7 linked regions of the Homo sapiens genome follow. The protein of the gene in region 5 interacts with the protein of the main gene of each other region in a pairwise test. Each region holds a gene or a part of one and is shown on either strand. Other genes may lie near its edges. The genes, in order: PLEKHO2, RPA2, GLYR1, RBM41, CCNC, CRX and FOXR2.

Region 1 (3,500 bases), on a different chromosome or scaffold from region 5:
ACAATAATAGCAGCAGCCACTTTACTCTGAGCCACTGTATAACATTTGATACACATAGTGTCATTTCACTCTTACAACTCCCCTCCAAGATGGTAGCCTCATTATCCACATGTCATAGCAAACTAAAGCTCAGAATGGAGGATGACTCGACAGAGTGGCAAACCACTGCTAGAGGACAGAGCCAGAATTCAAAGCAGGTCTCTCTGACCCCACGTTTTTCCCACTCCACCATTCTGCTTCCATGTGTTCATTCAATCAGTCAACAAATGTACTGAGTGCTTACAACATCACAGGAGAATAAAAGTAAGGCAGTCTCTGTCCTCAGAGCTCACAGTGCGGGAAAATAGGAGCTGAACAAATAAATACCCAGGCATACCCATCAACCTGTGTGAAATGCTATACAGGAAACACACAAAGGGCAGCGAGAGGACAGTGGGGGACCCAGTTCAGGTTGGGGTGGCCCAGGAAGGCCACCCAGAACAAAGACTGGAAGGACAGGCAGGCTGAGTGGCAATCTGCCTCTCTACCGCTATGCTTCTAGAGAACCCACTCTGCAGCCCCTTCCGCTTCCCACCCAAAGCAGGAGGCTCCTCTCCCCTCCTCCCCACTCCAGGCAAGGACCTTAGGGTGGCCACCACATCTGGTGAGGGTTCCAAGGACTCTGTCTTTGACCACAGGCTGGCACAGGAGTTAAATTCAAGCCCTTCTCTTGGACTTGGGTAGACACCCTGGAGCCTTGGGGCCAGCTACTGACATCTTGTGCCTCATTGATTGCCTGCTTGGGTGGCTGGGTGCCAGATACATGCCTACCAAATAAGGTTGGGGTCAGATCCACTTCTGGGTCCCCAGCACCCAGCCCTGTTCTTTTACACATAATGGGTGCTCAAGAGGTACGCGTGAAATGAAAATAAAAATACACACCCTTTGCTAACCACTTTGCTTCACTGATAGGTACCCAGAGTCGTGAGTGTGAAGTGGGGGGTGAAGGAGAGGGGATCAAGAATGTGTCAGAATCTAGAGGCTGCTAGAAGGAAATTAGCATGGACTAATTTTGACTACGTTATAATTTACATAAAATTCAAAAAAGGGGCCCCAGTTAAAAGAGGTGTGCCTCTCCCCAGGGATATCCTGTGGCCACAGCTGCCTTTGGAAGAACAAGCCCAGACAGATGTAAGCGTGGTGCACTGTCAGGAGCTGGGAAGACCTGGCTTCCCTGGTCTCTGTCATGGCAGGGGAACCCCAGCCTGGTTCTCACTGTGGGCCCCCACCCCCTTTTGAACTGCGCATTCTAGTGGTGGGGAATCTGGGCTTAGAAGCTGCAGTCATGCAGACTGAAGCAAACCACTTAACCTCTCTGAGCCTCAGTTTCTTCATCTGTGAAATGCAGCTACTAACAGCAGAAGTTGTAAGGAATCCAACTCCACGAGGGCAGGATTTTTGTTTTGTTCACTCCTGTACCCTCAGTTCCTAGACAGTGACTGGCACATAGTAAGTGTTCAATAAACATTTGTTGCTGAGTAAAGACAAAGCATATAGAGCAGTTCCCAGGATGCCCTAAACCTAGTAAACGGCAGCTGTCATTATTGTTACTATTGTCACTGCCATCCTCTCTGGCTCTCAGGGACCCTCTCCCTGGGCCCAGTTCCCAAGTCAGGACAAGCCCTTTCTGGTCTATAGCTGCTGGCCTCAGATCTCCAGGAGCTCCAGGAATGTGGGGTCCCACCTTGGGGTCTCTCCCTAACTTGTAGATGGCAAGAGAAATGGGGAAGTGGGGTGGTCCAAATGATCTTCCCAGGGTCTTCTTCTACAGGCATGGTGGGTCATGCCTGTAATCCCAGCACTTTGGGCCGAGATGGGCAGATCATTTGAGGTCAGGAGTTTGAGATCGGCCTGGCCAACATGGGGAAACCCCAACTCTACTAAAAATACAAAAAATAGCCGGGCGGTGGTGGCGCACGCCTGTAATCCCAGCTACTCAGGAGGCTGAGGCAGGAGAATCCCTTGAGCCAGGAAGGCGGAGGTTGTGGTGAGCCGAGATTGCACCACTGGACTCTTGTATGGTTAACAGGATGAGGCCCTGTCTCCGAAAAAAAAAAAAGGTCTTCCCAGATATAGGAACAAGGAAGTAGAAGGCTGGCCGATTATGAGCCACCCTGTCCAGGAGAAGAGGGATTTCAGCACCCTTTGACAAGAAGGGAAAGGCTCTCCCATTCCATCATGCACTCAACTCCCATTCCCCACATCACCACTGACACCCCCAGGGCCCTAACACTACTTCAGCGAGCCCTGCAGGCTGTCATAGGCCCAGGGCTAGAAGGGAAGAACAGGGAAATGGGAAACCCCACCCCCACATTTCACACTGACAACCCTCCTACTGCAACGGCAACAGCAAGGACAGCACCACCAGCCCCTGCCAGGCCTTCCACCTGATGGGCAGACTCTTGGTTTCTCTTAAACAAGGCAGTGAGGTCTGTGGAGTGTGAAGCTGTTGCCCAGCCACCCACCTCTGAGCTCCAAGCTCGCCTCTTGCTTTCAGGGGACCCACCCACCACCCCAAGGGATCTCACACCCCTTTCTAAACTCTCTCCACTCATGACCTCTCCTGAAAACTTTCTACCCTCTGGAAGCTCCCTAGGGCCACAGCTGGAACTTGTGCCTAGATCACTGTCACTTCTGGGCTGATGTAGCCTAGAGAATACTGTGACTGGATTACCTACAGAAACAAGTCCAGGTCCTTGAAGAATGAATGGGACCAGGGCAGGACTAGGCGAAACAGCACTTTGGTATGGAGAAGGGGACAACTGAAGGGCTACAGATGGTGTGAACCACAGCCCAGCCACAGAAACAGCCACCCAGGGGAGGACTGGCTGGAGGCCAGAGTCCTAGTTGCCTCCACCCAGCCCCCTTCCCTGCCCCTCAGACCCCCTCCCTCCAGGGGGGCCTGGCTATGCCCCAGTAAGTTTTAATAAGGGGCCCCTCCCCTTGGCAGGGTTCACAGGGGAGGTTTTGTCCTGCTCAGCCCAGTTTCTCGGCCTCCTCTCCTCACTGAGCAGCTGACCGCTGTTCTTCCTGTTTTGCCCTCTCCCCTCCCATCCCTCCTCACCCAGGCCCTTTCCTGCCCACTGTGAGCAGCTCCTGAGGCACCCCTAGGCACCAGCCTGCCTCCCTTGGATCACTCATTAAAAAAAAAAAAAAAAAAAGAAGCCAGGTCACCTCAACTCTGTACACAGAAGGGGACAGATGGAACCACAACACAGGTTACGAGAGACAGAGACTAGAAGAAACTTGGTTGGCACCTCACATCCCAGGAAGCTTATGACAACCTTTGCTCTTTGACAAAACCCAGTGATGTTCTGACCCAACTCTACTAAGAATCCACCGTGTCAGAGTCCTGTGCCGGGGCATTGAGAGAGAGGAAGCACAGGCTCTGCCCCAGGGCAACCTTCAGTCTGAGGTGGGTAACAGAGACGCTGTATAAGATAAGTCCCCTGTCTGGTGGG
Region 2 (3,500 bases), on a different chromosome or scaffold from region 5:
GCCCACCTCAGCCTCCCAAAGTGCTGGGATTACAGGTGTGAACCACTGCCCTCGGCCAAATTTTGTTTTGAGATGGGGTCTTGTTCTGTCACTCAGGCTGGAGTGCAGTGGCATTACAGCTCACTGCAGCCTCAAACTCATGGGCTCAAGCAATCTTCCTGCTATAGTCTCCTGAGTAGCTGGGACTACAGGCACACCACCACATCCAGTCAATTAAAAAAACATTTTTTTTTTTGTAGAGATGGGGTTTTGCTATGTTGCCCAGGCTGGTCTTAAACTCTTGGTCTCAAGTGATCCTCCGACCTTAGCCTCCCAGTGTTAGGATGACACACATAAACCACTGTGCTGGACTCATGTTGGACGTCTTAGGGGGAAGAGGCAGGATAGGGTAGGCAGAACAGTATCTAGTGAGCACACTCAAATTATATCTTTTTTTTTGAGATGGAGTCTCACTCTGTTGCCTAGGCTGGAGTGTGGTGGCGCGATCTCAGCTCACTACAACCTCAATCTCCTGGGTTCAAGCAATTCTCCTGTCTCAGCCCCCCCGAGTAGCTGGGATTATAGGTGCACGCCACCATGCCCAGCTAATTTTTCTATTTTTTTCTAGAGATGGGGTTTTGCCATGTTAGCCAGGCTGGTCTCGAACACCTGACCTCAGGCAATCTGCCCACCTCGGCCTCTCAAAGTGTTGGGATTATAGGCGTGAGCCACCGCGCCAGGCCCAAATCATATCTTAAAGCAGCCAGACAACAGTGTAAACTTATTTTTGCCTACCAGTGGCAAGAGGTAGTCTGGGTAACATGAAGATGAATATGATGGGACAGGATTTACCCTCAACATATTCCTAATCTAGGGGAGGTACAAAGGTAAACAATAAACCTGATCTTGATACACTGTAAAATGAAACATGCCATGTGGGACCTCAGAAAAGCTTACTGGCAAAAGAGGGAGGCTTTAGGCTGAACTCTGAAGCACGAGAATTTCAACAGCGAAAAAGTAGCAGGTAACAGGCTGAGGGCAAGTATGTACTCCCAGTCTCCTAGAGGGAATATGTACAAGGCACAAAAACGATGAGAGCTCTTCCTGTCAGAAGCCAAGAGGAAGTGGACCAATACCTGTACTACATGGAAGACTTAGAACACAGTAGACTCTTGGCCTTCATGGATTTAGCAGTCGCAACTCTGACCTGAACATCCACGACACTGCCAATATTTCATTTTGCTGAAGCATGATTGTGAATGGTGAGTATTGCCACAACAGGATAAAGCAAGCTCAGTCAACCGCTGGCACATATGCCACAAAAGGCAGCAGCCAAGCTTGAGGGTTAAGATTGTGGCTCTATTCTCAAGAGCAGCTGCTTGGCCAGGCGTGGTGGGTAACGCCTGTAATCCCAAGGCCGAGGCGGGCAGATCATTTGAGGTCAGGAGTTTGAGATCAAGCCTGGCCAACATGGCGAAACCCCATTTCTACTAAAAATTTAAAAAAAAAATTAGCCAGGTGTGGTGGCGCATGCCTGTAATCCCAGCTACTGGGGAGGCTGAGGCAGGAGAATCACTTGAACTCGGGAGGCGGAGGTTGCAGTGAGCCGAGATCATACCATTGCACTCCAGCCTGGGCAACAGAGACTCTCCTCAAAAAGAGAAAAAAAAAAAAGAGCGGTCGCTCTTGGTCACATGTATTAACTCATTTGTACCTCGGTTTCCTCATCTGCAAAACTAGGAATGATATTATAAAAATTACATGGTAAAGGACTCAGAATACTACCCAGCACAAAGCACTCAATAACAAATTTTAGCTATTATTATATTAGCTATTGTTCCTCATTCTTTACATTTGCAATAGCTTTTAATAACAACGTTGACAGGATCAACTTTTTCAATTTTACTTTATGGTATTTTATAGGTAAAGTTACATGCTATGTTAATATTTATAGTCTTAAAATTTGCAGGGGTCCCAGGATTTACCTCTCACAAACTACTATATTTCTGTTTTTACCTATCACAGCTGAGATTTTCATTGTATCTTCAGCATAAGAAAACTTAAGAACCAGTAAGGTAAAGTGGCAAGAACATGAGGTTTGGAGCCAGAGAGTCCTGTAGACCCATGCTCAAATCCCAGCTCCAAAGTCCTGGACACATGACCACCTTTTCTGAAAACTGGGGATATACACCTCTTAAGTTGTAAATGAGACACATAACATATATGAAGTGCTAATACCAATCTCTACATGTAGTAGATGTTTGACAAATATTATTACCTCTCAGGTAAAAATGTTACATATAGGTAACAGTTGAGATGTTAACAATGCCTTCAAATTCATCTCAAATCAAGTATTTATTTTTTATTGAGCATATATTTTATGTAGGAATTGATCACAAGGAATTCCTAGTCTGCTCCAAAGAGGTTCACAAAGTGTCAATAAAAATATGCTTAATTTTGGAAAAACAAAAACAAAAACACTTTCAAACTAAAAAAATTTTCATAGCTGACTATGAACCACAGACTACTCTGACAGTACTTCAGGAAAGTACCATTATTACAGATTAAAATTGGGTCGCTATTTGAAACTTCACATGGTTCAATCATATTGAACAAATACATAATCAACAGGAAACATTTTGGATAGAGTTCTTTATCACCCAGGGATGGTGCTGCACACCTGTAATCCTAGCTACTTGGGAGGCTGAGATGGGAGGATCCCTTGACCCCTGGAGTTAAGAGTCTGTGGTAAGCTATGACTGCACCACTGCACTCCAGCGGGGGTGAAAGTGAGACGGTCTCAATTTTAAAAGAAAAAAAGAATAGGGCGTTTACCTAACTTTTAACTGTGGAAAATACTAGATTTAAAAACAAAACAAGGCCAGGCGCAGTGGCTCATACCTGTAATCCCAACACTTTGGGAGGCCAAGAAGAGCAGATCGCCTGACGTCAGGAGTTTGAGACCAGCCTGACCAACGTGGCAAAACCCCGTCTCCACTGAAAATACAAAAATTGGCCAGGAATGGTGGCATGCGCCTGTAGTCACAGCTACTCGGGAGGCTGAGGCAGGAGAATCGCTTGAACCCAGGAGGTGGAGGTTGCAGTGAGCTGAGATTGTTCCACTGCACTCTGGCCTGGGCAACAGAGAGACTGTCTCAAAAAAAAAATAAAAATAAAAACAAAAAGACTGTCCGGGTGTGGTGGCTCATGCCTGTAATACCAGCACCACGGGAGGCAAGGGTGGGAGGACTGCTTTAGCCCAAGAGTTTGAGACCAGCCTGGGCAACATAGTGACACCCTGTCTCCACAAAAAGAAAAAAAAATTCAGAGACTGGGATTGAGTCTCCAACTTACAAGCATTATTCTCTGAAAAGCTATCTTAATACCCAGCTTTTAGGAATTCTGAGATAAAAATTATAATAACCAGAATGGAGAAAAATAGTTAAGCTTGGGAAGAAAAGATGAGAACCAATCATCTACCTTGTTTTCTCCTTCACAACCTCAAGAAAATCAGAATAGAG
Region 3 (3,500 bases), on a different chromosome or scaffold from region 5:
ATTCAGGTACCGGTTCCACCTTGCTCCCTGATTTGGGCAAGCTATTTCACCTTTCTGAGCCTCTGTGTCCTCTACATAAGGGGATGATACCCCCTACCTCATAGTTAGGAAGGAAAAGTAGTATCTCTTGTGTAGAGTGTGGCTTGCCATACAGCAGGTATTAGCACACATTGGTCCAGGATGCCTTTAAGTATGGAAAACTGAGAGAGATGGAGACTCTCCCTATGGGAGAGAGAGAGAGTGTGTGTGTGTGTGTTTGTTTGAAAAGAAAGGAATATGAGAGTTGGAAGTTCCTAAAGGATGTCAGCCAGGTTTGCTCTTTTTACCAAAAAGGCTTTGAGTACAAAACCATGCATCATTCCACCTTTATGTAAAACTGTATGCGCCTCATCAGGAATACTCTATGGACTTCAGATCATGCTTTCAAAGGGATCTCTTAGAATTGGCCAAGATCCAGAAAAGGGAACTGAGTCAGACAAAAGAGCAGGACTCTTCAATGTGGAAAAGCAAAGACTGAAGGAATCACGGGATCAGGAGGTAGGAAACAGCGAATGGCCTAGAGGAGTTTGGCGATGGGCACTGCAAGTGGATTGTGGTATGACTGTGTTAGGACCAGGGTGAGGAGCACTGCATAAAAGGGGCGTTTAAGAGGTGGTGTAAACAGGTATTGCAAGGGGATTTTTTAGGGATGAGAACTAACTTGTGAAGACAAAGCCATAAGTGGCTCCTGTAGAAGCTGGACTGCACCTCGCCTTTAACACTTGACATCAGGGAGGGGGCATGTGGTCCAGGCACATCCTGGGTGGGGGCACCATTGGTTACTGGACCCTGGCCCAGGTGGATAGGGTCTGACCCAGTGGAGTGTCCTCCGTTCCTGAGAAATACAGGATTTGGTCAAAGATGTTCAGTTTCAAAATTGACACACTACTTAGGCAAAAAAAAGTGTAGTTATACTTTTTTAATATTTGCAAGGTCTTTTATTAAAGAGCAGAAAGAACGGCTCCTTATGACAAGATAATCAGTGATTACAATCTTTTAGAAACCTGATTTTTCTCTCTCCACATCTCTGCCAAAATATCTAACAAATTGTGTTGACATCCCACTGTTAGGAGAGGGCCAGACCTTCCTAATCAGGTGTCCTGGTGAGAGGAGGACTTCTTTATACGGATTCGGCTCCCTGAGCGAGATGGCCAAGACAAAACTGCCCACGTAATTTTTGTATTTTCATGGAAATACGAAGGGGATATAATTTCAGCAAAACCCTGCCAGCTTCACTTGGTGACTACAACCAAAGATTATGTGTCAAGTGCACGAGGGTCCCTCTCTGACAGGTCTGATTAGTGGTGACCCCCCCATCAGAGTAGAGACAGAGCTCACGGTTTAAAAGTTTCATCGGGGCCAGGCGTGATGGCTCACACCCGTAATCCCAACACTTCAAGAGGCAGAGGCAGAAGCATCACTCAAGCCTAAGAGTTCAAGGCCAGCCTGGGTAACATGGCAAGACCCATCTCTACAAAAAATTTAAAAATAAAAAATTTAAAGCTACCATGCCGGCTTGTTCTCACCTTTATACTCTATGCTTGTGTGTGTGTTTGTGTGTGTGTGTGTGCTTTTTCTCTGTCTGTCTCCCTCCCCCTGCCATCTTCTCCCCGCCCTTTCTCCTTTTCTCTTTCTCTTAGCTTCACGGCTTCAGCCCAGGTCACCTGTCTATCCGAAGGCTGAAACACAGGTGAGAGGGTTCATGCGTAGTAGCATGTACCTGTAGTCTCAGCTACTTGGGAGACTGAAGCAGAAGGATCGCTTGAGCCTGGGAGGTCAAGGCTACAGTGAACTGTGATTGAGGCACTGTATTCCAGCCTGGGTGACAGAGCAGGACCCTGTCTTTTAAAAAAGAAGAGTTTTGGCCAGGCACGGTGGCTCACATCTGTAATCCCAGAACTTTCAAAGGGCAAGTCAGGCGGATCACGAGGTCAGGAGATCAAGACCATGCTGGCTAACATGGTGAAACCCCGTCTCTCCTAAAAATACAAAAAAATTAGCTGGGCGTGGTGGCGGGCACCTGTAGTCCCAGCTACTCGGGTGGCTGAGGCAGGAGAATGGCGTGAACCCCAGAGGCAGAGCTTGCCGTAAGTCGAGATCGCGCCACTGCACTCCAGCCTGGGCAACAGAGTGAGACTCTGTCTCAAAAAAAAAAAAAGAAAAGTTTCATCAGTGGCTGTGGATGATGATGGAATGGAGGGAGTGTTCATTTAAATTACAGGTGCTTAGAAGCCACCAGAAACCAACCGGTTCAACAGATTGTGGACAAACAGTGGAGAAGCTGCAAGTGCCTACCTGCGAGTTTCCATAGCAGTCTTCCCCTCCAGTCCTCACAGCAGCCCTTTCAGGAAGTGCACAGGGTCATCTTTCTGGTTCTTATTTTTTCACAGATGAGGAAACTGAGAGACCAGTGGTCCTTTTCCACCAAGCCACATCTAAGGTGGACCGGTCTCGCTGGATGTGAGGTGTCTGAGTCAGTACTGAAAGTAGCTGCTCTAGAAGAATATGTGGTTAATAATTAGAAGCATAGCAGCTTGGAAGCATCCCTTTTTCGTTTCACCTGGCACCTGATTTGTGTGTGTTTTTTTCTGGTGCCTTTATTTCTGAAGAACTTGGCCTGTAACACCTCAGTAATCTTCAGCCCCTTTGGATGGATTTTTTTTAAAAAGGCACCCATAGAAATTGTTTACTAAGTATTCACCAAATCCAAATGGAGAAGCAAACCCACACCTTCTGGCCCCATCTTTGTTCTCACCTGTATTTTTATTCTTATCTTTATTTATTTATTTATTTATTTATTTATTTATTTATTTATTTTTTGAGATGGAGTCTCGCTCTGTCGCCAGGCTGGAATGCAGTGGCACGATCTTGGCTCACTGCAACCTCCGCCTCCTGGGTTCAAGCGATTATCCTGCCTCAGCCTCCGGAGTAGCTGGGATTACAGGCGCATGCCACCGCACCTAGCTAATTTTGTATTTTTAGTAGAGACAGGGTTTCACCGTGTTGGCCAGGGTGGTCTCAATCTCTTGACCTCGGCCTCCCAAAGTGCTAGGATTATAGGCGTGAGCTACCGTGCCGGCTTGTTCTCACCTTTATACTCTATGCTTGTGTGTGTGTGCTTTTTCTCTGTCTGTCTCCCTCCCCCTGCCATCTTCTCCCCGTCCTTTCTCCTTTTCTCTTTCTCTTAGCTTCACGGCTTCACCCCGGGTCACCTGTCTATGTGAAGGCTGAAACACATGTGACAGCGTTCAAGATTAGTCATAGGCTGACATCTTTAATATACAGTATCTACATGTATGATTTTCTTTTTTTTTTTTTAAAGACCAAGTCTTGCTCTGTCGCCCATGCTGGAGTGCAGTAGCACGATCTGCACTCACTACAACCTCCACCTCCCGGGTTCAAGCAGTTCCTGCCGCAGCCTCCTAAGTAGCTGGGATTACAGACGTGTGCTACCACAACTG
Region 4 (3,500 bases), on a different chromosome or scaffold from region 5:
ATTTAGTATTCTCTTAGTTTCCTTGCTTTCAGAAACAGTGTTCACATCTTCAGCCATGTATGGCATTCCCCATCTTCTGACAATGAGCCTCAAGTTTTCTACCAGGATTGGCAAGTTATCTTTTACCCCATAGCATATTGTGAGGGAGGGTATTTAAAAATCATATTGGCTTTTAGACAGCCTTCAACTGATTTGCCTTATTTTAACCCCATCCCTTCACATTTATTTCTGAAGGTAAGTGAAATTATCAGTTCCTGAACTATTTAAGGATTCTTAAGTGGTGACAGGTGTGTTCTTGGCTCTCTCCACTACCAGTTTAAAATTCAGCTTTCTTCAGTGTGCTGAGTTGGTTCCTGCTCATCCAATTATTTTTCATCTTCCAGATTATTATTGCTGTTGTCTCCTTTTCTTGTTCCTCCTGACCTTGTTGATTTGTGTTTTTTTTTTTTTTTTTTTAAGTGCCTATAGTTTTAGAGAGTTTTCTGGATGGAATGAAATTAAATGAATGTGTTCAATCCACCATTTTTATGTGAAACTAATTCTAATCATAATGAAAGAGTTTTCTTACGGCTGAGCATGGTGTCTCACGCCTGTAATCCCAGCATTTTGGGAGGCCAAGGCGGGTGGATCACCTGAGTTTGGGAGTTCAAGACCAGCCTGGACAACATGGTGAAACCCCACGTCTACTAAAAATACAAAAATTAGCCAGGTGTGGTGGCACATGACTGTAATCCCAGCTACTCGGGAGGCTGAGGCATGAGAATCACTTGAGCCTGGGAGGCCAAGGTTGCAGTGAGCAGAGATTGCGCCACTGCACTCCAGCCTGGGTGACAGAGTGAGACTTTGTCTCAAAAAGAAAAAAACAAAGAGTGCCTTACCTCCTTTATATGATATTTTGGTTGATCCTCAATTTGTTTTAGGTATTATACCTGAAGAACCTTAGCCCTCGGGTGACTGAAAGAGATCTTGTGTCATTGTTCGCTCGGTTCCAGGAGAAAAAAGGACCTCCAATTCAATTCCGAATGATGACTGGACGAATGAGGGGCCAGGCTTTTATCACCTTTCCCAGTAAGTAGTTTCATCCAGATGATTACTCAGTTGCCCCTCAGTTCGCTAGAGATTACCTATAACCTCTCTAATTTAGATATAGTCCTTTGATTTCTCCACAGCATGTGAGAACAAGACAATGAACGAAAAATATGTTTTCAGTGTTTCTTTCTGTTTCCTCTCCTCCATTGACAGTGCATGGCCACACTACCCCAGTGTCCTCAGTTTTTCCCAGTCTTGGTACTTCCTTCTTACCCTACCAAAATCTGTACTCCCTTCACTGACAATAGTATTTCTAGTCCAAGTTATAATTAGATTACTCATTAATTAATGTATTAGTATTCTGATCAGAACACATGTACTTGGCTTATGCGCTGTTCCTTTAGGACTAAGTGAGAGCAAGCTAATATACTAATTTATTACTAATTCATAATTAGTAGATGATGATACAGTCTTCTAAATATTATTTGCATATTAATTAATGCATAGCTTCTAATCCAACTGGAAGAATAATATGCAAATTTCAGTTTCTATGACAGACCAGATAATATGTTGTTTTGGGGGAAGGCTTTGTAGGATCTGTACCTTTCATTGTCCCTAAAGTATCGTCATTTCTAAATAGCCTATTAATCTATATGTGGGCAAGTGGTTTTACACATGAATACTGCCAAACTCCCCTCCATTGTTTTCATACAGTCTTGTATCATCTTTCCTATCATACTGAAGGTTTTTAAATCCGCTATACCAGTGGTTTTCAGTCTTTTCAAGTGTAAGAACCCCTTTTAAATTTAAAAAACCGTTTATGGGTGCCCCACATAATACGATGTATTAGTTGAAAAAATACATAATAAAAAGGCTTTTTAAAGCAAGTACTTTAAAATGTGTAGCTGTTTTACTAATCTTGAAAGCTATACACTTAAAAAAATTTGTAGTACTTATATATATGAAACAAAATTGGTTTAGTCTACTTGTCTACTTAGGATTCCACAAACTCCTGGCCACAAATCATCCCTTCCTTATTTCTTACATCCAGGCTCTTAGACCCATAAGTTGAATACTCCTGGCATGTAGTATATATTCTCACATTTCAACCTTCAATATGCCTACAAGTGTTCTTATACTTATTTATCCCAATAAGGTGGCCCAGAACCACTCTCCCACTGAAAAAAAAGTGGCAAAGTGCCCTTGATAACATGATAACTTCTTTTGTGTTACTCATTTTGAAAATGATTGATTCTAATAATACCTATAATCTGTTACCTAAGATAGAGACTTGTGTATAATTACTAATAGCTTAGACTTCTTTAGCACGCTGCCTATGTCTTTGTTTCTCTACTTGTTTCTTTGAATTAGGAGACACCCTCAAACACCGATTTTGAGTTTTTATTGTTATTATTTTTGCCATTAATTTAATTTTGCTTAATAATGCAAATGGGAGATTATAGAAAAAATGATCAAATCAAATGACTATATGGCCTTATAGCTTACATTTAACTCCAAGGCAAAATAATCTAAACTAAACCTGGAATAGAATTGAATTATTAAGTCCTATGTAAATTGAAATTTTTTCTTTCTCTTTTAGATAAGGAGATAGCATGGCAAGCATTGCATCTAGTAAATGGATACAAACTACATGGGAAAATATTGGTGATAGAGTTTGGAAAGAACAAAAAGCAACGGTCAAATCTCCAAGCGACTTCTCTCATATCATGTGCTACAGGTAGCACTACAGAAATTAGTGGTAGCTAGAATATATATAAATTGTGGGTCCTGGATGGTCTTTCTTGAATTGGAATCTTGGATCTAGGATTTATGTATAGACACCAGTTTGTTTGGAGTTGAAGAGGAAAAACTAACTGAGGGAGGGGAAAAAAGTAATTTCAGCTTTTGGAGAGAACTGGTAGAAAACATTTTCTATTATATAATTGAAGACTATATAGGACAGATGATATGCTGAGTATGAAGGGTAAAGTGCAAAGAGTATTATTTTCTCAGGATGAATTACAACGGATTATTCCTAAGGATTTTTAAAAATCTTTATAATTTTTCTGGGGTCCTCAATATTTGTCTCTAGAGATAACATTCTTTCTTAGACTGCTTCGTATACACAGAAATAAAAAACTAATTAAATGTTGAAATATTTCTTTACTAGAGCCCATTTGCCATATTTCATCCACCTAGTAAATAAAAGAGTAGGACCCCCAGGCCTAAGCATCAACAAATGCTATTAAGTCAGAACTATCAGCAGTAATAGTAGGTAGTTTCATAAGTCAGTTGACTTATTTAATGAATGCTTCCTCCACAAGTTATCAGTCTTCAAAAAGCTATATATTTTTCTAGTGAAATATTTTAGATCAAAATGTTGGTGTTCTCACAGCCATTTAAGCTAGCAACCATTGAGTATCATTGAATTCATAGCAATAAACATTGATTAAGTGTCTAATATATGTTAA
Region 5 (3,500 bases):
CTTTATCTTTACAATATCAGATCATTCATTGAAATTTTTGAAAATTGCTACTGAAATTTATAAAACAGGACAATAGCCAGCAGTGAAAAAAAAAAAAAAAAAAGATGGCACAGAATCAAACTGACATGAAACTACTATAGTTCTGAATTCTGCCCTGAATTTCAGATGAACTTACCTAATTCTGTCAGCTTTAAATTTATGGTATATGACCATATGTTGAGAGATACCTGTAATATACCTCCACTGCATTAGGAAAAGTTACTAATCAGATTAGTGATTTTTTTAAATGAGACATTCTCAATCAAATCACAAATTTAAAAAATAAAATTAACATGGATCATGAAGTTTTGGAAGAAATGTTTTAAAAACTACAAAACAACATAATCTAAGAAAAATATAGTAAGTATGATATATGATTAAATGACATCAATAATTAAAGTCTACAAAGTACCTGTTTGGAGGTGGTTTTGGTTTTGGCATCTTACTAAGAATGGTTGCCATCTCTTTTCTCTCATCGAAATTCTTCCACTGCTCATATAGTTTTAAAATAACCCTGATTATTTCCAAAATCTAGAAGAAAATATTTGAAAAGTTCTCAGTGGCAAAAACAAGCAACATTTTTTATATAAAGAGCATACATCACTACACAACCCTCAGAAAACAGTAAATAGTCTCTGTCCTTAAATCCTGATAAATTTGAAAGCAGTATTTTTCACCACAGTGCTGTTTAGGATTTTCCTTCTAGCATCTCATTTTTCAGCATGTGTGCATTGTCCATTCTTATCTATCTCTGCAGCTGATTTCCTTCCATCTGATGGTATCTTTTAAACTGAAACATACTAAGAATAAAGGTTCTAATCATGAGGGAATATACCACTATAGAGCACACTCCTCTAGTATAAATTATTTTAAACAACTTAATCGGGGGTAGTGCACAAAAGATGTTTTGATTCTCTGTTACTACACATACATTAAGGTGCTCAAAAACTGGCAGCTACAAATTTGAAACAACTAGTTAACAAATTAGCTATTTTTTTCCCACCTGAGTAGAACCTAACCTTAGGATTAATTTTAATGCATTTAACACTTGAGCAGAAAAGCTAGAAACACAGCAAAAGCCATTCTGCCAGGAGATAGGCTATGTTACAGAAGTTCACAGTAGTATTCAGTGGTTACCAGGGAGCTTTTAAAATAATCCTGGGAATGAGAGGCTACTTTGCAACCAATTAAACCAAAAGTTTACCATTCTGTTTAATCCTAAACTGAAAAGAGATACATAACTTAAATAATCAGCATTAACTCTTCCTACCAAACTTTTTTTTTTTTTAAACGGAGTCTCGCTCTGTTGCCCAGGCTCGCGTGCAGTGGCACGATCTTGGCTCACTGCAACCTCTGCCTCCCAGGTTCAAGCAATTCTGTCTCAGCCTCCCGAGTAGCTGGGAGTACAGGTGCATGCCACCACACCCAGCTAATTTTTGTATTTTCAGTAGAGACGGGGTTTCACCATATTGGTCAGGCTGGTCTTGAACTCCTGACCTCAGGTGATCCGCCCACCTAGGCCTCCCAAAGTGCTGGGATTACAGACACAAACCACCATGCCCAGCCCATGTTTCTTAATATTTTGTAACCAATAATCTTCTTAGCCTGGTGGACATCACAAGATTTTAGGCTCATGATAAGTAAATATGACATTAATTTTTAAACATCCAAGTTTACATACAACTAAGGGAATACCTTTTCCATATCCACAGAAAGCTCAGCAAACCATTGCCTGGCATCTTTCTGCTGTACAACACAGGCTACATGTAGGCAAGCTGAAATGAAAATGAGAGACAACTGTCCATGTTTAACTGCAAACACAGAATATATGATCTAACAAAGATTTTTCACTATTTCCTGTGTATTTTCCAACACTCTTTAAAAAACATTAAACAGCTACATATGAGAGTTACCACTGACCATCTCATCAATGTAATCCGAGACAGAAAAAATTACTAGATTACATCAAGTTCTTGACATCTGGTCCTCACTGCGTGCTAGTCATGGTGCAGTTGCCTTGAGAGTCAGGCACGTTAAAGAGGAAAAACATCCAATGAGGAGAGCAGAAAAGGGAAGTTATCCCTGAGTAGTGTACAAAGTAGCCGTTAAACTGCACCCAGAAGTCAGTGTGACAAAACAAAACAAACAAAAATGTTAATTAATATACTAGGTTTTAACAATGTTGACTGTGTTTCCACATTTCAGTTAAAAGCAGTGTTGCCTGGCCTTTTTTCTTCCTTTTCATTATTAGCACATGATCAAGTTATGTGAAAGCTGGGCACATCCTTACAGAATTCAGTGTTGTAATCAAATAAAGGTTAGAAAATAAATGTAATATACTGTATACAATATTAGTTATATATGTTATATACAATATAAACTAACAAAAGAGAGGAATCTACATCATAATTTTGCCTAAAACAATTTCTACTGAGCAGCCTGTATACCCTTAACCCACTCCAGCTTAAGTTATACTCCGTGGTCTGGTTATCCATGTCTTTGCTAAGGATGACATTCTAGGCAAATAGCAACTCAAATGTGAACTGACACACTGGTTGCCCTAAGTCAAGCAAAGCTATGAGTAGGGCTTAGGTCAAGAAGAGGTTAAAAAAAACCAAATGACTGACATGATAAAAACAGGAAATTAAAATACAGTGGACAATGCTATTAACATGGGCATGCATAGAGTACACTGAAGATTGAGGAAGCATCCTAAACCCAGACTGAGGTGATGCTGAAAGGGTGGGGGAGGGTCACTGAAGAGCTGATATCTAAGCCAAGTCTTACAAAAAAAAAAAATGAGAGTGGGAGAAGAGAATAGTATGTATATCAATTGGGAGACGAATTTGGCTAGCTCCGGGTTTCTCAATCTTGGCACTACTGACATCTTAGGTTGAACAATTCTTTGACACTGTCTTGAATACTACAAGATGCTTGGCAGCATCCCTGGCTTCTACCCACTAGATGCTAGTAGCACCCTACCCTAGTTATGACAACTAAAACCAAACATTGCCAAATGTCCCCTCGGGGCAAAATTATCCCCAGGTGAAACCACTAGCCTAGCTCAACAGTTTGGAAGATAGACAGGCTCTCTGAGGATGGGAGTGCTGGAGGCTAATAAGCCAGTTAGGAGACTGCTGTGGTAACATGGATAGAAATGAGAAGATGACTATGAGATTACAGAAGGAACAATCGAGAGGAAGGCACAAAATGTACTGGTAAACAACTACATGTGGGTATTGAGGGAGATGAAAGGGCCTAACTGCTGGGTTTCCAACTAAGGTATATAACTAGTGCTATTCACCAAACTGGCAAAGACATTAAAAGGAGGAACATATTTTGGGGCAAAGTGATAAGCTCAATCCTCATCATGAGTCTGAGGTGCTGGTGGGATGCCAAGCGGAGCTATGTAAAAGGAAGATGGATATAAAGAACTGCCAAGTGGCAAGATCTTGGCTAAA
Region 6 (3,500 bases), on a different chromosome or scaffold from region 5:
ACATTCTTTTTTTTTTTTCCTCCCCAGGAGACAGGTCCTCTTTCGATTGATTGATTTTTTTTTTTTTTTTTTGGGATGGAGTCGTGCTCTGTCGCCCAGGTTGGAATGCAGTGGTGCAATCTCAGCTCACTGCAGCCTCCGCCTCCCGAGTTCAAGAGATTTTTGTACCTCAGCCTCCCCAGAAGCTGGGACAACACCATGCCCGGCTAATTTTTGTATTTTTAGTAGACGGGGTTTCACCACGTTGGCCAGGCTGGCCTTGAACTCCTGACCTCAAGTGATCCGCCTGCTTCAGCCTCCCAAAGTGCTGAGCCACTGGCCTGGCCTGTTTTGTTTTGTTTTGAGAGAGGATCTTGCTCTGTTGCCCAGGCTGGAGTGCAGTGGCTGGATCATAGCTCACTGCAGCCTCCAACTCCTGGGCTCAAGCGATCTTCCCACCTCAGCCTCCCAGAGTGCTGGGATTACAGGTACGTGCCACCACGCCCAGCCCTCACTGGAGGCCCTTCTGTCATCAGCTGCCTCAGGTTGCTGCCAAACCCAGGGAAAGATTTCAGTGGATGTTCAATATTATTATTGTTATTATTCTCTGCTGACATCTTGTCTAGGCAGCACTTTATCATTATTATCAGCTGTTTGATCTGGGGCCCACACTTTCCTCCTGCTGAGCCTCCTCTCCCCTATCCGTTAAAAGGGATGATCCTGGCCAGGCACTGTGGCCCACGCCTGTGATTCCAGCACTTAGGGAGGCCGAGGTGGGCGGATCACCTGAGGTCAGAAGTTTGAGACCAGCCTGGCCAACATGGAGAAACCCAATCTCTACTAAAAATACAAAAAAAAAATTAGCCAGGCATGATGGCACATGCCTGTTGTCCCAGGTTGGGAGGCTGAGGCAGAAGAATCGCTTGAATCCGGGAGGTGGAGGTTGCAGTGAGCCAAGATTGCGCCACTGCACTCCAGCATGGGTGACAGAGACTCCGTCTCAAAATAACAACAACAACAAAAACAAAAACCCAGAAAGTGGTGATCGTAAATGTGAGCTTTCTTGGCTTTCCTGGAAGGTTAACTGCTTAGCCAGGCAATCTGACTCAGATTTGACGGCGAAGACAATGAAAGTGTGTGCTTTTGTTCCAGGCCCTGCAAATGGTCCCCAGTGGGGCAGGTTCACCAGTTTCCTTGTCTCCACTCTCTGGAGGTTCATATTTAACATTATTGGTTTTTGGAGAAGTGGGAGAGGACAGAGGGAACCCAGGTTAGGGGGCTGGGGGAATAGGACCTTCAGGAATTACTCTAGCCTTGAAATCCTGGATTCTCCACTGCCAGCCTGTGTGTGATCCCGGGTAAGTCACACTTTCGAGCCTGAAGATGTTCTCTAAACTGTAAGCATCAGGCAAAAGCAGTGTCTCATGCCTGTAATCTCAGCAATTTGGGAGGCTGAGGCAGGAGGATCTGCTCAGGCCAGGAGTTCAAGACCAGCCTGGGCAACATGGCAAGACACCTCTCTCTACACAAAAATTTAAAAAATTAGCTAGGCGTTGTGGCACACCTGTAGTCCCAGCTACTTGGGAGGCTGAGGTGGGAGGATGGCTTGAGCTCAGGAGGTCGAGGCTGCAGTGAGCTATGATTGTGCCACTGCACTCCAGCCTGGGTGACAGAGTGACATGCTGTCCCTAAGACCAAAACCAAAACCAAAATGTAAGCATCATAGTAATACAGTCTCTACCTCCCAAGGTTGTGCTGGGGATTTAATGACTACCTGTATAGAGAAGGCTTGTGTATTAGTTAACTATTGCTGGGTAACACTTATCCTAAAATTGAGCAGCTTCAAACAATAAACATTTCTGATCTCTTATAGTTTCCAAGGGACAGGAATCCAAGAGTGGCTTAACTGGATTATTCCGGCTCAGGGTGTTCCATGTGGTTGTGGTCAGATGTCGGCCAGGACTGAAGTCACTTAATGGCTTGGCTGAGGCTGGGGAACTAACCTCCATGGTAGCTTACTCTCATAGCTGTTGGCAGGAGGCCTCATTTCTTTGCCACATAGACCTCTCCGTGGGATGGCTTGAGCATCCTCACAACATGGCGGCTGGCTTTCCTTAGAGCTAGCCTTGGAAGCCACGCTCTGTCATTTCTGCAATATCCTGTTGGTTACACACGTCAGCCAGCTTGTTAGTAGGGACTACACAGGGCATGAATATCAGGGGGTAAGGATTATTGGGAGTTACCTTGGAGGCAGTTTGATTTTGGGGATTTAATGTAGCTGCTTTTGATTTTATTGTCAGCACTGAGCCTTCTCGTGACATTCCTACCAGGTTTTACTTGTTCTTTCTGCTTTTCTCCATGATCAATCTGCTATGGTCACACAGGGTGCCTTGTTTCTTCTCCAACAAGACCAAGTTGGAGACCCTGTCTTGCTCAGGGTGACGGTGTGAGATTCCAGCCTCCAAGCCTTTGCACCTGCTGTTTTTTTAATTTTTTTTTTTTGCCTGGAAATCTCTATTCCAGATCCACACAAATTCCTAGATGCCTCACCCACCCCAAATGCCTTCACTCTCATAACAACCTGTTTTATTTTCCTGGGAGTTCTTGAAACTTTCTGAAGGCTTTTTTTTTTTTTTTTTTTTTGACAGAGTCTTGCTCTGTTGCCCAGGCTGGAGTGCAGTAGTGCCATCTCAGCTCACTGCAACCTCCGCCTCCCGGGTTCAAGCGATTCTCAAGTAGTTGGGATTACAGGCACCCATCATCATGTCTGGCTAATTTTTGTATTTTAGTAGAGATGGGGTTTCACCATGTTGGCCAGGCTGATCTCAAACTCCTGACCTCAAGTGATCCTCATAACTCAGCCTCCCAAAGTGTTGGGATTACAGGCAAGAGCCCCTGCTCCTGGCCATGGCATCTTTATTAAAAAAAAAAAAAAAAAAAAAAAAAAAAAAAAAAAGGCAGGGCGTGGTGGCTCACGCCTGTAATCCCAGCACTTTGGGAGGCCGAGGCGGGTGGATCACATGAGGTCAGGAGTTCGAGACCAGCCTGGCCAACATGGTGAAACCCCATCTCTACTAAAAATACAAAAATTAGCCAGGTATGGTGGCAGGCCCCTGTAGTCTCAGCTACTTGGGAGGCTGAGGCAGGAGAATCACTTGACCCTGGGAGGCAGAGGCTGCAGTGAGCCGAGATCAAGCCATTGCACTCCAGCCTGGGGGACAAGAGTGAGACTTCATCTCAAAAAAAAAAAATTTTTTTTTCCTTGTTTGTTATTGGTTTCTCTAGGAACGGAACCAAGAAGTTCAATTCTATGAGAACAGAGAAGCTGCGGTCTTATTTCTTCCTATATTCCTAGTTCCTAGAGCAGGGAAGGCATTCAAAAAATATTTACTGAATGAACAGTAGAATCTCAACTTAAAATAAACAGAATCTGTCCCCCTCCTCATGTGAGGGATGAGAAGGAAAGGACAGTGAGAGGAACGGAAGAGTGGGAGCTCACAATAAACACCATCCATTTTTAA
Region 7 (3,938 bases), on a different chromosome or scaffold from region 5:
AATAGAGAAGATTGGTATAGTTAGTAAAAGCATGTGTTCTGCAGTCAGGTTGCCTATGTTTGAAAGTCAGCTCTGGCCTTTACTAGCTCTGTGACTTAGGCTTTTTTGTGCCTTATGTTTTTTACTCTGTAAAGGAAGAATAATAAGAGTACCTACTTCATAGGATTATTTTGAAGATTTGAGTTAGAGTGCTTACAGCATTCTGTAATAATTAACAGTTGGTACAACTGTTGTGTTGTTTTTTGTATTTATGCTGTAGAAAGACAACTCAGGCCACTTGTATGAAAGATTAGAGTAGAAGAGAACCAGAGTATGGAAACAATATGGAGATTAAAGTGCCTCTCCAATAGCTCCCATTGACATTTGCTGGATATGTTTGCAACATAGTCCTATGTAGTGATTTTAATGATATCGCATACTTTACACATGGATTTTGTGCAAACTGAATTAAAGGAAACCTTGCCATTTTATTTTTCTTACAAATGTCCTGGGTGTGAACTTACTGGAAATAGAACCTCTGGGGCTTTCAGGACCTTGCATACTGTGGCTAAATTTTGGTCCTACTGTTCAGAGTATAGTTCAGAACTCATTTCCTAAGAAGGTGACCTGGAGAGAGGAAAGCCAGCTGTTTCCCAGAAAAGGATTGAAAACGGCAGCAAGGTTAGATTCTAGTATCAGTATGAGAATAATAGAGGCCATGTTCTGATAGTTACCATCTTACTATAAAACTCAGGTTGCACATATTACTGCCTGTTGTATATCGTATGTTGAGTATGATCAAGAGGCAATGCGTATAGTGAAAATAAAAGATCTGGGCTGTGGATCTAGCTCTCCTACTTACTCATGTCTGTATATCTCAGTTGCCATGTCTGTGACATGAGGATAATAATACCATGTTATCTTGCAGGGCTGTGATGAAAATCAGTTGAGATCATCTATGTGAAAGCACTTAACCAAAATCCAAAGGCACTCGATGAATGAAATGATTTTTAAAACCATTAAGGAAGACTCAGAAATATAATGTGATCTATACATATGTTTGTCCCTTCCTTAAATGAACTCATCAAGGGTTTAAATATGTGCCAGATGATCACCTATTATGCAAGTCACCATAGTTTGCACATAATTCAGTTTATAATTCCTCTTGAAGTGACTTTCTGCTTCCAATCAAAGCTCAAGAATTCCACCTAAAAATGTTTTTCTGCTCAAAAGCTCTTTTTTATTACTTCCATGTTTTGAGCCTTGTTCCAGAAAGCTGAGGTTTCTCCAGGTCTGACCACTAATCAGTGAGACATTGGTGCCTCTTTCTTCAGTGCTTCTAGCAGGCCTACTGATAAGCTCCCTAGATGAGATACACTGCATAAAAAAATGATGCCCAAAGGACAGCTTTAAGTGCCTGCTAGATATCTGTTCTTTCAGAAGTCTCTCTCCACCTATCTCTCCAGTAAAGATGGACTTAAAACTAAAAGACTGTGAATTTTGGTATAGTCTCCATGGCCAGGTCCCAGGGCTGCTGGACTGGGACATGAGGAATGAGTTATTTCTGCCTTGTACCACAGACCAGTGCTCTTTAGCTGAGCAAATCCTTGCCAAATACAGAGTCGGAGTAATGAAGCCCCCAGAAATGCCTCAGAAGAGGAGACCCAGTCCTGATGGAGATGGTCCTCCCTGTGAACCCAATCTGTGGATGTGGGTGGACCCCAATATCCTGTGCCCCCTTGGCAGCCAGGAGGCCCCAAAGCCCAGTGGAAAAGAGGATCTGACAAACATTTCTCCTTTCCCTCAGCCCCCACAAAAAGACGAAGGGTCTAACTGCTCAGAGGACAAAGTGGTAGAGTCTCTGCCATCTTCCTCCAGTGAGCAGTCTCCTTTACAGAAGCAGGGTATCCATTCCCCCAGTGACTTTGAGCTCACAGAAGAGGAGGCTGAGGAACCAGACGACAACTCCCTCCAGTCCCCTGAAATGAAATGTTACCAGAGCCAGAAACTATGGCAAATCAACAACCAAGAGAAGTCCTGGCAAAGGCCCCCTCTCAATTGTAGCCACCTTATTGCCCTAGCATTAAGAAACAACCCCCACTGTGGCCTCAGTGTGCAGGAGATCTACAATTTCACCCGACAGCATTTCCCCTTTTTCTGGACAGCTCCGGATGGCTGGAAGAGCACCATTCATTACAACCTCTGCTTCCTGGACAGCTTTGAGAAGGTGCCAGACAGCCTTAAGGATGAAGATAATGCAAGACCTCGCTCTTGCCTTTGGAAGCTCACTAAGGAGGGGCACCGCCGCTTTTGGGAGGAGACTCGTGTCTTAGCCTTTGCTCAAAGGGAGAGAATCCAAGAGTGCATGAGTCAGCCAGAGTTGTTGACCTCTCTCTTTGATCTTTGAAATGCCATTGCTCCCTTTTGGAACACTGCCTTCCTTACTGTGCCTACTTATCCCCTGACATTCATTAATCTCTAAACTTACCCAGCCTGGTTGGTGCCAAGTCTGTCTTTAGCTACTGTTACAATAATGGTGTTAAGTAAAGTTAGAGGTGGGTACAGGGGAGACAGAACTTAAATCCAGGTGGAGAGTCATGGAAAGTCGCACGAGGAGAGTGGCTGTTGTTCCAAATTTTGAGCAAAGGAAAAGAAATCCTAGAAACAATGGCATAGAAACTAAGGAAAGAAGGGTGTGTTTTGTGAAAGAAAGGAATTTTGTTTATAGAGAGTATTTTCACACATGAAAGTGAACAGTGGAATATAAAGCATAAAAGGCAGGATGGAGCCGAGCCATGGAGAACCTCGAGTGCCATGTGAAGAGAATTTGACTTGTGATGAAGAATCAAGTTTCCCCTTCTACCATTCATCAGCTACATCTCCTTTTTAAGTAACCCATTTTATCCTTCAGAACCTCACTTTTCTATTTCTGGCCCTGGACTTCTAAGCCTTGTTTCTTTGTCATCCAATTCCAATATTGACAAATAATTCTAAACAGCTACTTTTAGTTTGTATGTTTAACGTCCTGTGAAATATTCCTGTATTAACCCCAAGCCTTTTGATGATAAAGCTTTATTTTCTATTATTTTTAGTTCTCAAGATTTTATTGAGGATATGCTAATGTGTCAAGGTCCATCTTAGATGCTGAGGATAAAAAGCTGAGGGATACTAGTGGGAGACATATTTATAATGTAAATATGATGAAACAGATGTGAGAAATTGACATGGAAATGGGGAGACATTCTTCCTGGGAAAGACATGAAAGGGCATTGGAAAAAATACATTTTGAGCTAGTTTTGAAGAATAAATGGCAAACTGGAGTAGAGGCATTACAGAGACAACAATGTGAACAAAGTGGATGGAGTGTTTGGGGGAATGGCATGAAGTTCAGTGTGACTTAACTACATGAGGACCGTGAGTGACTAAGAGAAAACTATTAGGTGTTTGGACTTCATCTTGTGGGTTTTTAGGAGCCAAGAGACATCAGTGGAGTTTTGCTAAAAAACAAAAAAAGAAACAAGCCAGCAGCAACAACAAACACTACAGCATTTGTTTTTCTAATTTCAAAATTATCTTTAACATCTTTTCTATGCAAATAAACTTTTGTTTATCAGATTTAAGCATAGCTTTTTGCTTCAATGATATTAACATATATCCAGGAGAAAATAGATTTTTAGGTATAAATTTAGTTGCAAAACCTTCATAATGGGGGTACAAAAACGCCTGTAAGCTACAAAAGCAATTAATTCAATATAATTGTAACTATTTTCAAAGTTCACATTTTTATAATGATGTATTATACCTCATACAAAATTGTATATTTAGGTTAAATCACAAAACAACATATGCAAACAGTATTTTTTGAAAAAAATTGTAAATGCTACTTCTGTATCATAAGGCAAAGACCAAGTTAACAGAATACCTTGGAATTAATAAAATATTCTGCATATAAGTAGTCA

Evidence for each region.
Region 1: the proteins of CCNC (region 5) and PLEKHO2 interact in binary tests that used the Homo sapiens proteins (3 or more experiments, as listed by UniProt).
Region 2: the proteins of CCNC (region 5) and RPA2 interact in binary tests that used the Homo sapiens proteins (3 or more experiments, as listed by UniProt).
Region 3: the proteins of CCNC (region 5) and GLYR1 interact in binary tests that used the Homo sapiens proteins (3 or more experiments, as listed by UniProt).
Region 4: the proteins of CCNC (region 5) and RBM41 interact in binary tests that used the Homo sapiens proteins (3 or more experiments, as listed by UniProt).
Region 6: the proteins of CCNC (region 5) and CRX interact in binary tests that used the Homo sapiens proteins (3 or more experiments, as listed by UniProt).
Region 7: the proteins of CCNC (region 5) and FOXR2 interact in binary tests that used the Homo sapiens proteins (3 or more experiments, as listed by UniProt).

The regions. Positions count from the first base shown.
Region 1 is NC_000015.10:64,844,915-64,848,414, reverse strand, and holds part of PLEKHO2 (pleckstrin homology domain-containing family O member 2), read right to left. Parts: intron 1-3,500.
Region 2 is NC_000001.11:27,908,076-27,911,575, forward strand, and holds part of RPA2 (replication protein A 32 kDa subunit), read right to left. Parts: intron 1-3,500. UniProt on the Homo sapiens protein: As part of the heterotrimeric replication protein A complex (RPA/RP-A), binds and stabilizes single-stranded DNA intermediates that form during DNA replication or upon DNA stress.
Region 3 is NC_000016.10:4,837,289-4,840,788, reverse strand, and holds part of GLYR1 (cytokine-like nuclear factor N-PAC), read left to right. Parts: exon of another isoform or gene 1-537; intron 538-1,109; exon of another isoform or gene 1,110-1,546; intron 1,547-3,500. UniProt on the Homo sapiens protein: Cytokine-like nuclear factor with chromatin gene reader activity involved in chromatin modification and regulation of gene expression. Acts as a nucleosome-destabilizing factor that is recruited to genes during transcriptional activation.
Region 4 is NC_000023.11:107,066,823-107,070,322, reverse strand, and holds part of RBM41 (RNA-binding protein 41), read left to right. Parts: coding exon of another isoform or gene 1-133; exon of another isoform or gene 134-920; coding exon 921-1,068; intron 1,069-2,629; coding exon 2,630-2,796; 3' UTR 2,797-3,500. UniProt on the Homo sapiens protein: May bind RNA.
Region 5 is NC_000006.12:99,544,661-99,548,160, forward strand, and holds part of CCNC (cyclin-C), read right to left. Parts: intron 1,815-3,500; coding exon 1,735-1,814; intron 571-1,734; coding exon 452-570; intron 1-451. UniProt on the Homo sapiens protein: Component of the Mediator complex, a coactivator involved in regulated gene transcription of nearly all RNA polymerase II-dependent genes.
Region 6 is NC_000019.10:47,824,937-47,828,436, forward strand, and holds part of CRX (cone-rod homeobox protein), read left to right. Parts: intron 1-3,500. UniProt on the Homo sapiens protein: Transcription factor that binds and transactivates the sequence 5'-TAATC[CA]-3' which is found upstream of several photoreceptor-specific genes, including the opsin genes.
Region 7 is NC_000023.11:55,622,262-55,626,199, forward strand, and holds FOXR2 (forkhead box protein R2), read left to right. Parts: upstream 1-1,138; 5' UTR 1,139-1,450; coding exon 1,451-2,386; 3' UTR 2,387-3,931; downstream 3,932-3,938.